Linked DNA regions of Homo sapiens: region 2 is linked to region 1. A link means that fine-mapping ties the variant in region 1 to the expression of a gene that starts in the linked region. Tissue or cell type: whole blood. Region 1 holds a variant in brackets; the other region holds the start of a gene. All regions are shown on one strand. Distances are from middle to middle.

What was found. PIP is the estimated chance that this variant, and not a neighbour inherited with it, causes the effect.
Region 2: it holds the start of NDUFS4, and the variant in region 1 is fine-mapped to the expression of NDUFS4 in whole blood (TOPMed, PIP above 0.99).

The regions. Positions count from the first base shown.
Region 1 is chr5:53,586,230-53,593,565 of GRCh38, forward strand. All of the region lies in intron 1 of NDUFS4 (NADH:ubiquinone oxidoreductase subunit S4), which reads left to right. Among named protein-coding and RNA genes, the nearest start is that of NDUFS4, 29 kb to the left of the region's middle. The variant A/T (reference allele first, on the strand shown) is at 3,895.
Region 2 is chr5:53,557,452-53,563,829 of GRCh38, forward strand. It overlaps NDUFS4 (NADH:ubiquinone oxidoreductase subunit S4), which reads left to right and starts at 3,188. Exons shown (of 5, transcript NM_002495.4): 1 at 3,188-3,309. The coding sequence starts at 3,212. RefSeq lists an enhancer at 3,090-3,589.

The DNA.
Region 1 (7,336 bases):
GAGGCAGGAGAATCGTATGAACCTGGGAGATGGAAGTTGCAGTGAGCCGAGATCACGCCATTGTACTTAAGCCTGGGCGACAAGAGTGAAACTTCATCTCAAAAAAAAAAAAAAAACAAACCAAAACAAAAAACTCAAATAATCTCTAGTTATAGTAACTTATTACTAAATCTTTCCTTGATTTGAATCTGATTTCAGAAAAATGATTGCATTAGAACAGGCCATAGGTAGCAAACTTTACTGTAGTTGTTCAGGAAAATGAATTGTTTAGTTAGTTAGTTAGTTTGTTTGTTTGTTTATTTATTTATTTTGAGACGGAGTCTCACTCTGTCGCCCAGGCTGGAGTGCAGTGGCGCAATCTTGGCTCACTGCAAGCTCCGCCTCCCAGGTTCATGCCATTCTCCTGTCTCAGCCTCTTGAGTAGCTGGGACTACTTGCGTCCACCACCATGCCTGGCTAATTTTTTGTATTTTTTAGTAGAGACGGGGTTTCACCGTGTTAGCCAGGATGGTCTTGATCTCCTGACCTTGTGATCCGCCTGCCTTGGCCTCCTAAAGTGCTGGAATTACAGGCGTGAGCCACCGTGCCCAGCCTGTTTCTTCCTTTTTTTTGAGATGGAGTTGTACTCTTGTCACTGAGGCAGGAGTGCATTGGCACAATATCGGCTCACTGCAACTTCCACTTCCCGGGTTCAAATGATTCTTCTGCTTCAGCCTCCCGAGTAGCTGGGATTACAGGCATGTGCCGCCATGCCTGGCTAATTTTTTTTGTTTTAGTGGAGACGGGGTTTCACCATGTTGGCCAGGCTGGTTTCGAACTTCTTACCTCAAGTGATCTGCCTGCCTCGGCGTCTCAAAGTGCTGGGATTACAGGCGTGAACCATTGCACCCGGCCGAGTTATATATATATAAAATAAATTCTAAGAGTCTCCTTCTCTATCCCATCTGCTCATTTACCACTGCTTACCCCACTCCCAAAAAATCATTATTAGTTTCTTATGCTTGGAGTCCGTTTATGCATATTTAAGAAAATATATTATTCTTGCCCATTTTTCCACAGAGGAGGCATACTAATTGTAATTTTCATGTTGCTTTCAATTTTTTAACTTTCCATTAAAATTTTCACACATGCAGAAAAGTGGAGTGCTGTGAATCTATAAACCTACCACCTAGATTTAACATGGTTAGTGGTTAGTATTTTGCTGGTTTTGCTTATTTTGCATATATATGTATATAAATGAGCAAAAGGCATATATTTGAGTATGTATAGATTAGCAACAGACAAACACATATATTGATCTAAGCCATCTGAAACTCAATTATAAATATCATGGTATTCCATCCCTAAATACTTTTTTTTTTTTTTTGAGACAGCGTCTCGCTCTGTCTCACAGGCTGGAGCATGTGGTGCTATCATGGCTCACTGCATCCTCCGCCCTCTGGTCTCATGTGATACTCCACACCTCAACCTCCCAAGTAGCTGGAACCACAGGCATGTGCCACCATGCCCAGCTAATTTTTGTGTTTTTTGGTAGAGACGGGATTTCACCATGTTGCCCAGGCTGGTCTTGAACTCTTGGGCTCAAGGGATCCACCGGCCTCAGTCTCCCAAAGAACTGGGATTACAGGTGTGACACCATGCCTGGCAATACTTCACTTTTTTAAGGTAAATTACCACTCAGTCAATGAAGGATTTCAACCAAAAGAGTCACATGATTGGGTATAATAATTACTTGTTTAGGTTGAAGGTGCCTTTGAGGAAGAGAAGACTAGAGGCAGAGAGGCCAATTATTAATAAGTGATTGTTGTACAGGCATGCTTTGGAGATACTGCAGGTTTGGTTCCAGACCACCACTAGATTGTGCAAATACCATGGTAAAGCGAGTCACACAAATTTTTTGGTTTCCCAGTGATAAAAGTTATTTTTCCACCACACTGTAGACTGTTAAGTGTGCAGTAGCATTATGTCTAAAAAACAGTGTACGTACCCTAATTTAAAAATTCTTTACTGCTCAGCTCAAGAATGTTAACGATCATCTGAGCCTTCAGTGGGGTTCTCTTTCCTCTCTTGCCTTCCTATGAATTGGTCCTGCTTGTGACTAGAGGGAAAGAAGTGAACATTTGTTTCTCCGCACACCAGCTCCTTCATGCCAATTACTTAACTAGTTATTTAATTCTACCAGTAATTATTTGCGGTATTATTATCCTTATTTTTGCAGATGAGGAAATTGAAGTGCAGAGTTGTGAAATAATTTGTTCAAGATCATATTGCTCTTAAGTGGCAGATCTGGAATTTTCACGAGTCTGACTGACTGTGAAGTTACTACATGACTGTTATCCAGTTTGTTTCATGAAGTGAAAAATATATGAATGCTGGTAATTTTTGTTTTCTTCTGCATGTATTCATTATTCTTAATGATGTGATCATCAGCCTTTTAAAAAACAATATGTCAGTCCATTTGCAAATACACCACTCTTAGGCACTTTATTTTTGAATTGAAGTATGCAACTTGTACCAACTAGCTTTCCCTTTGATGTAATATTGCCAAACAATGAAATATCATGTCTTATATTGTCACCATATTTTATTTTTGAATTCACTTTTTATTTTATTTTTAATATATTTTTTATACAAATGTAATCTCAGTGGTTTTAGGGCTGATACAGAGAAGTTTTAGACCAAAAGATTCCTAAACCGAAGCAAAAAGTGACAAGTTGGAACACTTGAAAGTGAAGAGAAAATGCATAGCCATCTTAAAAAAAAAAATTAGGAGGTGATCTGTCCAAGATGACACAGTAGCATTAGAGCAGTTGTGAAGCAGATCATCTAATGGCTTTTTGACCCCTTCTGACCTTCAAAAGCGTAAGAAAATAAATTATTCTGCCCTTAAAGACCAAAACGTAGGTTTTTAAGAGCAACATCTTGATTCATTTGAAAATAGTAAACTCTCAAGCTGTAACACTCCCAACCTCAGTCAATGTAAAACAGACATCATACAATTTAAATTCTCGTATGGTAGTCCCTAGAGAAGCACTTGAATAGAGAATTGCTTATCAAACTGTGTCAGTCAGGATCCTAAACCCCAAAATACCTGTAGCTTAAAATAACAGAGATTTATTTCTTGTTCATGTTGCATTTCCCTTGTGGGACAGTCAGGAATGCTACTCCGTGTATCCTCACTTGGGAACTCAGACTAACTACTGTTGGTTACTGGGATGTAGGAAAAGAGGCAGTTAGGCATTGACTTCTAAAGCTACTGCTGGATAATGTCATTTCCCCTTATACTTCACTAATTTAGGTAAGTTACGTTCCTACACCTAACCAAGAAGTGGCAATGGGAGTGTAGTCTCAAAATACGATTAGAAGGAGAATATGATTAATACTGAGTGTCACCTTGATTGGATTGAAGGATGCAAAGTATTGATCCTGGGTGTGTCTGTGAGGGTGTTGCCAAAGGAGATTAACATTTGAGTCAGTGGGCTGGGAAAGGCAGACCCACCCGTAATCTGGGTGGGCACCATCTAATCAGCTGCCAGTGTGGCTAGACTGTAAAGCAGGCTGAAAAACATGGAAAGACTAGACTGGCCTAGCCTCCCAGCCATACATCTTTCTCCCGTGGTGGATGCTTCCTGCCCTTGAACATCAGACTCCAAGTTCTTCATTTTTGGGACTCGGGTTGGCTTTCCTTGCTCCTCAACTTGCAGATGGCTTATTGTGGGACCTTGTGATGGTGTGAGTTAATACTTAATAAACTCCCTTGTTAGTTGTGTCCCTCTAGAGAACCCTGACTAATACAGAGAAGAACTGGAATATGGGTGCCCAGCTGGAATGACTAACAAGCCTTTTGAGGAATATAGAGAATTACGCATGATTGATTGGTAGAATGATTTTTTT[A/T]AAAAAATGCCAAATAGCTTTGAAGTAATCCTGTTTTGATTGAATTAAGGGTCTTGTTGCTGAAAGGTGAACTAGGCAGTTTAGCCAGAAATGTCCAGTAGAGGAGTAAACTGGTTAATTGGACATCCTTTTCCTTGTGTTTTGTCTGTTACATTTTCATAAGCATATTTAAGATTTGCTCTTATGTGCTTGCTTATAACATAAATCTATTAATAAAGATTCACAGTTATCAACTATTTTTATGTAGAACATGTTGGATAATGATGCTATGCAAAGTCTAAAAAATCAAGAGGTTAATAATTGGTAGGACATATAACAAAAACTATCTCATATTTTGTGTTACATAGGCAAGCACTAGTAGTTTTTAAAAAGTATATAATTTGGGAAAATTTGTTCCATGAGGCAGTACAAATGAATAATCATATTGAAGTTCAACAGCTTAATTCTGGACTTCTGAAATTTTCCAAGGAGATGAGTGATTAATAGATACAAACATACTATTTTTATGTACATATGTGAAGAGACTGTCTCTAGGCAGTTATAAATCTTCTTCATCTTTGACAAACTTTTGCATATGTGTCTTTATTGGTGTTGTAAACCAGGGATTATCTGTTTCTTCACAAGGCATGCTCTTTTTAAAATATTGTCGTGGTTTATACATACTATGAAATTTACCATTTTAACTATTTTTAAGTATATTTCATTGGCATTAAGTACATTCACATTGTTGTGCAACCATTACCATCATATATCTCCAGAACTTTTTCATCTTCTAAAACTGAAGTCTGTACCCATTACACAGTAATTCTCTATTCTTCTCTCTCATAAGCCCCTGGCAACTACCATTTTACTTTCTGTTTCTGTGAGTTTGACTACTTTAGATACCCCATATAAATAGAATCATATACTATTCTTTTGTGATTGGCTTATTTCACTTATCACAATGTCTTCATGGTTCTTCCATGGTGTAGCATATATCATAATCTGCTTCCATTTAAGGCAAAATAATATTCAATTGTATGTATATACCACATTTTGTTTACACATTCATCTGCCAGTGGACAGTAGGGTTGCTTCTGTCTTTTGGCTGCTGTGAATAATGCTGCTATAATCATGAGTGTACAGATATCTGTTCTAGTCCCTGCTTTAGTTTGTCTGAATATAAATCCCAAAGTGAAGCTGCTGGATTATATGGTAATTTTATTTTAAATATTTTGAGGAATCACACTACTGTTTTCTGTAATGGCTGTGTCATTTTACATTCCCACCAGCAGTGAGCAAGTGTTCCATTTTCTTCACATCCTTGCCAGTACTTGCTACTTTTTGTTTGTTTTTTTTGGGGGGGGGGGGTGATAATAACTATCGTAATAAATATGAAGTGGTATCTTATGGTTTTCTTTTTCATTTCCCTAGCACTCTTTTGCATGTTTTTGTGTGGACATATGATTTCAGCTCATTTGGGTAAATACCTAGGAGCACAGTTGCTGATCCTATGTTAAAACTATGTTTTAGCTTTGTAGAAAACTGCCAGACTGTCTTCCAAATTGGCTGTACCATTTCGCATTCCCACCAGCGATGAATGAGACTTCTGTTCTCTTCATCCTTTCTCAAATTTGGTGTGGTATTTTGGATTTTAGCCATTCTAATAGGTGTGTAGCACTGTCATTTTAATTTATAATTTCCTAATGACATATGATATTGAGCACTTTTTCATATACTTATTTATCATCTGTATATCTTCTTTGGTGAGGTGTCTGTTTAGATCTTTTGCCCACTTTTCAGTTGGGTTGTTTGTTTTCTTATTGATGAGTTTTGTTGTTGTTGTTGTTTTGAGACGGGATCTCGCTCTGTTGCCCAGGCTGGAGTGCAGTGTGGCGCAATCTTGGCTCACTGTAACCTCTGCCTCCCAGGTTCAGGTGATTCACCTGCCACAGCCTCTTGAGTAGCTGGAATTACAGGCACGTGCCACCATGCCTGGCGAATTTTTTGTATTTTTAGTAGAGATGAGGGGGTGTGGCAGATTTCACCATGTTGGCCAGGCTGGTCTTGACCTCCTGACCTCAAGTGATCCGCCCGCCTCGGCCTCCCAAAGTGCTGGGATTACAGGTGTGAGCCGCTGCGCCCGGCATTGTTGAGTTTTAAGAGTTCTTTGTTTATTGTAGATAAAGTTTCTTAATCAGATATATAGTTTGCAGATATTTTCTCCTAGCATGTGGCTTGTCTTTTCATTCTTTTAATATTAATAGTATCTTTCACAGAGCTAAAGCTGTTAATTTCAATGAAGTCCAACTTATTTATTTTTCATGGATCATTTTTTTGGCATTGTATCTGAAAACTCAGTACCAAACCCAAGGTCACCTAGATTTTCTCTTACATTATCTTTGAGAAATTTGATTGTTTTGCTTCCTACATTTAGGTTCATGAGCCATTTTCAGTTAATTTCTGTGAAAGGTGTAATGTCACTGTGTAGATTAAGTTTTTGCATGTGGATGTCTGGTTGTACCAGCATCATTTATTGAAGAGACTGTCATTATTGGATTGCCCTTGTTTCTTTCTGAGAGATCAGTTGACTATATTTGAATAGTCTATTTCTGTTCCATTCATCTATTTATTTTATAGCTAATACCACAGTCCTTATTACTATAGCTGTGCAGTGTGTAGTAAGTCTTAAAGTCGGGTAATAACAGTTTTCTGACTTCATTCTTCAGTATTGCATTGGCTATTTTGAGTCTTTTGTCTTTCCATATGAATTTTAGAATCATGCCTGGAATAAATCCTGCTTGGTCATGGTATATAAATCTTTTCATGCATTGTTGAATTTAGTGCTAATATCTGTTAAGAATTTTTGCATCTATATTTATAAGAGAATTAGTCTATAGTTTTCCTTTCCTGTAATGCCTTTATCTAGTTTTGATGTTTGGGTAATGCTGGTCCCATAGAATGAGGTACTACATGCTTCTATTTCCTAGAAGAGATTGTAGAGATTTAGTGTCATTTCTTCCTTAAATATTTGGTAGAATTCACCAGGAAACATCTGGACGTTATGGTTTCTTTTTTTGGAAGGTTATTATTGATTCATTATCTTTAATAGATATAGGCCTGTCCCGATTATTGCTCCTTGTGAGAGTTTTAGTAATTCCTGTTTTTCAAATAATTAGCCCATTTCATTTAAGTTATCAAATTTGTGAGCTTAGAGTTGTTCATAATATTTCCCTGTTTTTTTAATGTCCGTGGGATCAGGAGTGATGATACCTGTTTCATTTTATATATTAGGGCTTTGTCTCTCTCTCTCTCTCTCTCTCATCTGTCTGTTTCTCTTTTTTGTTAACCTGACTAAAGGTTTATCAGTTTTAATGCTCTTTTCAAAGAACAGCTTTTGGTTTTGTTTATTTTTCTTTACCAATTTCCTATTTACAATTTCATTGATGTTTACTATAATTTT
Region 2 (6,378 bases), 29 kb before region 1:
CTGCAGGAGCTAATGGGAAAGCCAATATACAGCAACTTTAGTCTCTATCATAGGAGTCAGGCTCTGTCAGCAAGGATGGCGGAGGTGAAAAATGCCTGTAAGACGTAGTTTCTACCATGGGGAGTGACTCTGAAGGATGTGACTCACAGCTGTGATCTGAAGGGCAAGGAGGATGACTAGAGAAGAGGCAAAGAAGTGGACTCTAGTAGTTAACAACTTCTGGGGCAGCACATTGAAATAACAAAATGGCACTTGGACCTAGACATTCTATTAAGCTTAATGGTACAGCCTGTGGTATAGGTGAAATAGTATAAATAAATGAACATACCAAGTTATTTCTGTTCCATTCTAACACCTATATCCTGTATATAAGGTCAGAAAGGACCTCAGGAATGGGCAGCTGAGGGAATCCAGCAGAAAGTGAAGGGAATCAAAGATTCCACTAGGGTTCTGGCAATGCTGATGTTGGATTATGGGCTGTACAAAAGACAAAGAGACTAGAGACCGGGGGCTTTCCTGGGGAATTCAGATCCATGGAAGTTGGGGACTAGAATAGGTGTTAGGTGGAGAGGTTGAGCTTTGGTTGGTAGGGCCAGTAACAGGGCTATAGGAAGTTGCTCTTATGAACACTGGGACACATCCCATTATTCCTTCACATAGAAAATCTTTATTAAAATTCACCCAGACACCAAAGCCACCCTTGGGCTTAAAATTTCTCTCTGAAATAGAGAACCCAGAAATAGCCACACACAAGTATGGCCAACTGATATTTTGACAAAGGTGCAAAAGGGACTCCATGGAAGAAGGATAAACTTTTCAATAAGTAGTGCTAGAGCAATTGGATAGCCACAAGCAAAAACCTGAACCTAAACCTCACACCTATTAATGGAAAACTTAACTCACAAAAATTACATAGACTTAAATGTAAAAGGCAAAACTAAAACAACCTTTGAAAGAAAACAAGATAAAATCTTTAGGATACAGGATTAGAGAATAGTTCTCAGACATGACAGCAAAAGCACAATCCATAAATTTAAAAAATGAATAAACTGGACTTCATCAAAATTAAAAATATTTGTTCTGTGGCAGATCTTGTCAAGAGAATGAAAATACAAACTACAGATTGAAGAAAATATTTGTGAATCATGCATCTGACAAAAGACACATCTAATATATGAAGAACTCTCAAAATGTACAGGTAAAAAACCAAATAATGCTAATTAGAAAATGGGCAAAAGACATAAGGACATTTAACTGAATGGAATATACAGATGGCAGATAAAAACATGAAAAGATATTCAACATTATTAGCCACCAGGGGAATAAATGTAAAACTGTGATGAGGTATTACTGCACATTTATTATTTACTTTAGCTCAGCTAAAACAAAAATAGCAATAATAGAAAATGCTGGTGAGGATATGGAGAAACTGGATCTCTCATACATTGCTGGAGGAAATGTAAAATGTTACAGTTACTCTGGAAAACAGTTTTTAATTTCTTTAAAAAATGACACATACATGTATCACATGACCTGGCAATTGCACTCCTGGGCATTTATCTCAGAGAAATGAAGATTTTTGTCCACATAAAAACCTGTATTCAATTGTTTGCAGCAGTTTTATTTGTAATGGCCCCAAATGGGAAACAATCAAAATGTTCTGCAATAGGTGAATGGTTAAACAAATTGTGGTACATCCATGTCATGGAATATTACTCAGCAATAAAAAAGGAATGAACTATTGATAAACACAACAACTTGGATGGGTCTCAAGTGCATTATGCCAAGTGAAAGAAGCCAATCTTAGAAGGTCATGTACTGCATGAGTCCATTCATATAACATCTCAAAATGTCAAAATTATAAAAACAGAAACAGAGATCACTAGGGTTAGGAGGGCAGGTGTTACCAAAAAGGTTAGCACTAGGGAGATCTTTGTGAGGGTGGAATAGTTCTGTATCTTGATCATGGTGGTGGTTACACAAAATATGTAGTAGAATGACATAGGACTACACAAATACTTTATATCAATGCCAGTTTCCTGGCTTTGATACTGTACTAGAGTTATACGAGATGTAATCACTGGGGGAAACAGGTACACAAGACATCTGTACTATCTTTGCAACTTCATGTGAATCTATAACTATTTCAAAATGAAAAGTTTGAAAGAAAATTTTCTCTGAGGCATCTCTCCCTTGCCTTCCTTCATCTTGTGCATTTCTTTCCCTGAGTATGACTTTTTCTCTTTCTTTCTCCCTTTCCCTTATGTACTGGGTTTTCCTTTAACGGTCCATAATGCCAAACTATGTCATTCCCCATCCTCCTATTGTTCCTATTTATTTAATGAAGGTTATGTTTTCATGTGCTTAATTTTAAAAGCAGGAAAGTACTAACTCTTTAAACAAATTTCTTAAAAAACAAAACCCAAAACTAACCTGCTTTTTATTTTATATAATTCAGTTAGTCATTATTCTTTAAGGTCGGAAGTCCACAATACAAACATGTTTCCAACACTTGTATTGGAAGATAATTTTTGTTTTATATGCATGGAGCATTAATATCATTCTTCATGTCTATGGATTATGAACACACACACATTCAGGATTTACTGGGGAAACAGTGACATCAAATATTATGTTCTATTGATTCTTCATATAAATCTACATGTCAAAAAATAATCCTTTGCCAGATCACGTATCCAGATTTTTCGTTTGGAAAATACGAACATTACTACTACAGAATATCAAACTGAATACAGCCCTGTCCTGAGGGCTTGCAAAGTGAATCTGGCAATACTTTGGAAAAGTACTACTGCAGGTTCTCAAGGACCCAAAGAGCTCTCCAGCTTTTCCAGTGGGTTCAGCCCCAAATATCCTAATTTCTTCAATAAATTACGAGTTGCAGGTGTTTAAATATGCAAGTATATTTTGGTCTTTTCGTTATCATTGTAAAACACCAGTCCTAACAAGCAGTAAAGATTACACTTTATGGTGGTAATATTTACAGTTAATGCACTTCTGCATTTCTTCCCGCACATTTTTCTTCTTACTTATTTAAACTAAGCGTTTCCCCTCTTTTTTTAAGCCCCAGTATTAAAAAGAAAATAAAATCCCAAAGAATTTCGCAACATTGCGATTGCACTGGCTTGAGAACGAAGGAAGTTAGTCCCTTGCGGTGATCCGTCCTTTCATCCTGGCGTTTGCCTGCAGCAAGATGGCGGCGGTGTCAATGTCAGTGGTACTGAGGCAGACGTTGTGGCGGAGAAGGGCAGTGGCTGTAGCTGCCCTTTCCGTTTCCAGGGTTCCGACCAGGTAATAGAATTTTCACACTTTTCTTCAAGCTTCTTGGGTCCCTCCATTTTTGCGGAGTCTCTGCTGGCTGAGTTCCGGAGGAGGCCTCGGGGAAGGCGTCCTCTGTTGACCCTTTTCTCGGGAGAAGTCGGGCGGACTAGGGACTGTCTGCTATCAATGGGCGTTGGCCAGGCGAGTGAGGGCGTGAGTGCGAGGCCGGGGAGGAGGACCTGTGGTTTTCTGGAAGCTTTCGTATTCGGCTTGTCGCTGAGGGAGAGGGTCCGTGGAGGTTTTGCCTCCGGAGCTGCAAGCTGAACCTTAGCCCTCAGAGAAGGGGAGGAGTCTCACTGATTTCTGTTTCCACTTTCTGCATCCCTTCCATTTGTCACCTGTTTGCCCACCACTCCAGTCCTTACAGAAGGGTTAAATCACTGTATCCCTTCCATGGTTTTAAGTGGTTTTAATTTGGTTTCTGCATAGGAAGATTGTTTATTCATCAGTCTGCTTGGGAGGAAAACTTGTTTGGAATTCAGTGTTAGTAAAAATATCACTGCTAGTAATATTGGAAGGTAATTTTTAAAAGGCTGGTGGTAATGCCTGGAGGTTTTCTAGGGATTTTGTTAAAGCCTCACAATAATTCAGGGATTGAATTGAGTTGTTGAGGGCTCTTTGCGTCCTTGAGAACCTAAAGTAGTACTTTTCCAAAGTATTGTCAGATTCAGTTGTCAGTTGATTGAGTTGTTACTGTTTTTCCTTGAAGCATTTTTGTGATGATTTTTTTTTTTTTGGCTGTATTAACCTTCCATTTTCTATTTTTCAGAATTTCCTGGAGTTTTTTAAATTATAGTACTAATGCTATACGTACATACACACACATATTAGAACAAAGATTGGAAAGACTGGATGGAGAGATTTGAAGGGGGTAGGAGGTGGATGCAAGTGGTTAAAAGTTGAAAGGAAGGTCTAGTAGAATGCTAATTGATTTAGTGTTAAATATAAATGGAATGCAGAGAATTAGGATGAGTTAATTCGGAAGAATTTTTAAGGATGAGTTTTATTAAGGTTTAAATATAGTGGGTGTTGGGTGGGAAAGAAGAGAGTGTCCCGTAGGGTCCGTGGCTTATGAAAAGGCTTGAAAGCATTAGTTAAACGATTACTAAATACATAGAATAGAGTCACTCAAAAGTAAGGGTGCTAAGATTGGGGAAAGGCAAATGATGTTTGTAATTAAGTGTTCCATATATGGAAAGTATTTTTCCTTTTTCTTTCTCTTTTTTTTTTTGAGATACATTCTCACTCTGACGCCCAGGCTGTAGTGCAATGGCGTGATCTTGGTTCACTGCAACCTCCGCCTCCCGGGTTCAAGCAGTTCTCCTGCCGCAGCCTCCTGACTAGCTGGGATTACAGGCGCGCACCACCACACCTGGCTAATTTTTGTATTTTTAGTAGAGGCGGGGTTTCACCATGTTGGTCAGGCTGGGTTAAGTATTTTTCTAAGGTAAAATACTTCACTGGTTAACTTAGAGTTAATATAGCGGTGACCAAGATTAGCCCTTCCTCCCGTACAGATTATAGGGATTAATTGTCATTCCCAGATAATAATGTACTCATGGTAGCCCCAGAACTGAAAACAAGTTTGAAGGGACCACTGGTTTATGGCTAATCAAAACATGGCTGTAATTTTAAGTCAAAGCCATTTTGTCAGCAATTATAGTAATTGAAGTTGAGATTAGATTTTTGAAACTCTGATGATAATTGTTACTACATATCCAAACTTAAGAGTTTTTGCCTGCAAATGTAAGAGATTTGAAAATAAATCATTTAATCTTGAAAAAAAATCTTAATGCCAGGGAAGACGTTTTTTAAATACAAATTAACACATTTATTTGTTTTCTGTGCCACATTTTTACCCTAAGAGCTTGTCATGTTCATCCTAATTTGAGGGAAATTTATAGACCCTCTCCCTTACATATTGTTTGTTCTTCATCCTTAAGCATTCTTTTTCCATTATGATTTGATAGTAATGAGGATCTGAAAAAGGTGAGTAGAAAGAACCAATTAATGGGAAAATCTACATCTAAAATTCATTTTATTGTAATGCTTAGAAAAACATTTGCAAATCATGTAACATTTCAGATCATTTGAATAGAATATGGGAAGTGGAATCAGTAAGGTAAGGAGTGGAGTAGGGAACTGAAGGAAAGGAAGGGCCGGGCGCGGTGGCTCACACCTGTAATCCCAGCACTTTGGGAGGCCGAGGCGGGCAGATCACAAGGTCAGGAGATCGAGACCATCCTGGCCAACACGGTGAAACCCCGTCTCTACTAAAAATACAAAAAATTAGCCAGGCGTGGCAGCGTGCGCCTGTAGTCCCAGCTACTCAGGAGGCTGAGGCAGGAGGATGGCGTGAACCCGGGAGGCAGAGCTTGCAGTGAGTCAAGATCGCGCCACTGCACTCCAGCCTGGGCAACAGAGCCAGACTGTGTCTCAAAAAAACAAAAAAAAAAAAAAAAAAGAAAAGGAAGGATGCTGTTAGCTGCTACATTAACATATTAATTCAATTATAGTATATCATCAGTGAAAAGCAAAACAAAGAATGCAACAACACATACACACAAGAGAGAAAAAATCTAGTAATGTGGGTGATTGAGCTGATCTAGTTACTTACTGAGCTTGTGCTGTAGTGTTGGTCTCAGTTTCCATGTGCTTCTCATTTCCCTGTACCGAATGTGAGGAGGCAAAAAAAGGGGTTAAATTGTCTACATTTTTTTTTTTTTTGGAGATGTAGTTTCGCTCTTGTCACCCATTCTAGAGTGCAGTGGCACAATCTCAGTTCACTGCAACCTCTGCCTCCCGGGTTCAAGCGATTCTCCCGCCCCAGCCTCCAGAGTAGCTGGGATTACAGGTGCCCACCACCTCGCCCAGCTAATTTTTTTATTTTTAGTAGAGATGGAGTTTCACCGTGTTAGCCAGGCTGGTCTCAAACTCCTACCCACAGGTGATCCACCCGCCCCGGCCTCCCAAAGTGCTGGGATGACAGGCGGGAGCCACCGCGCCCATCCCTAAGTTGTCTACATTTATCCTTACTTT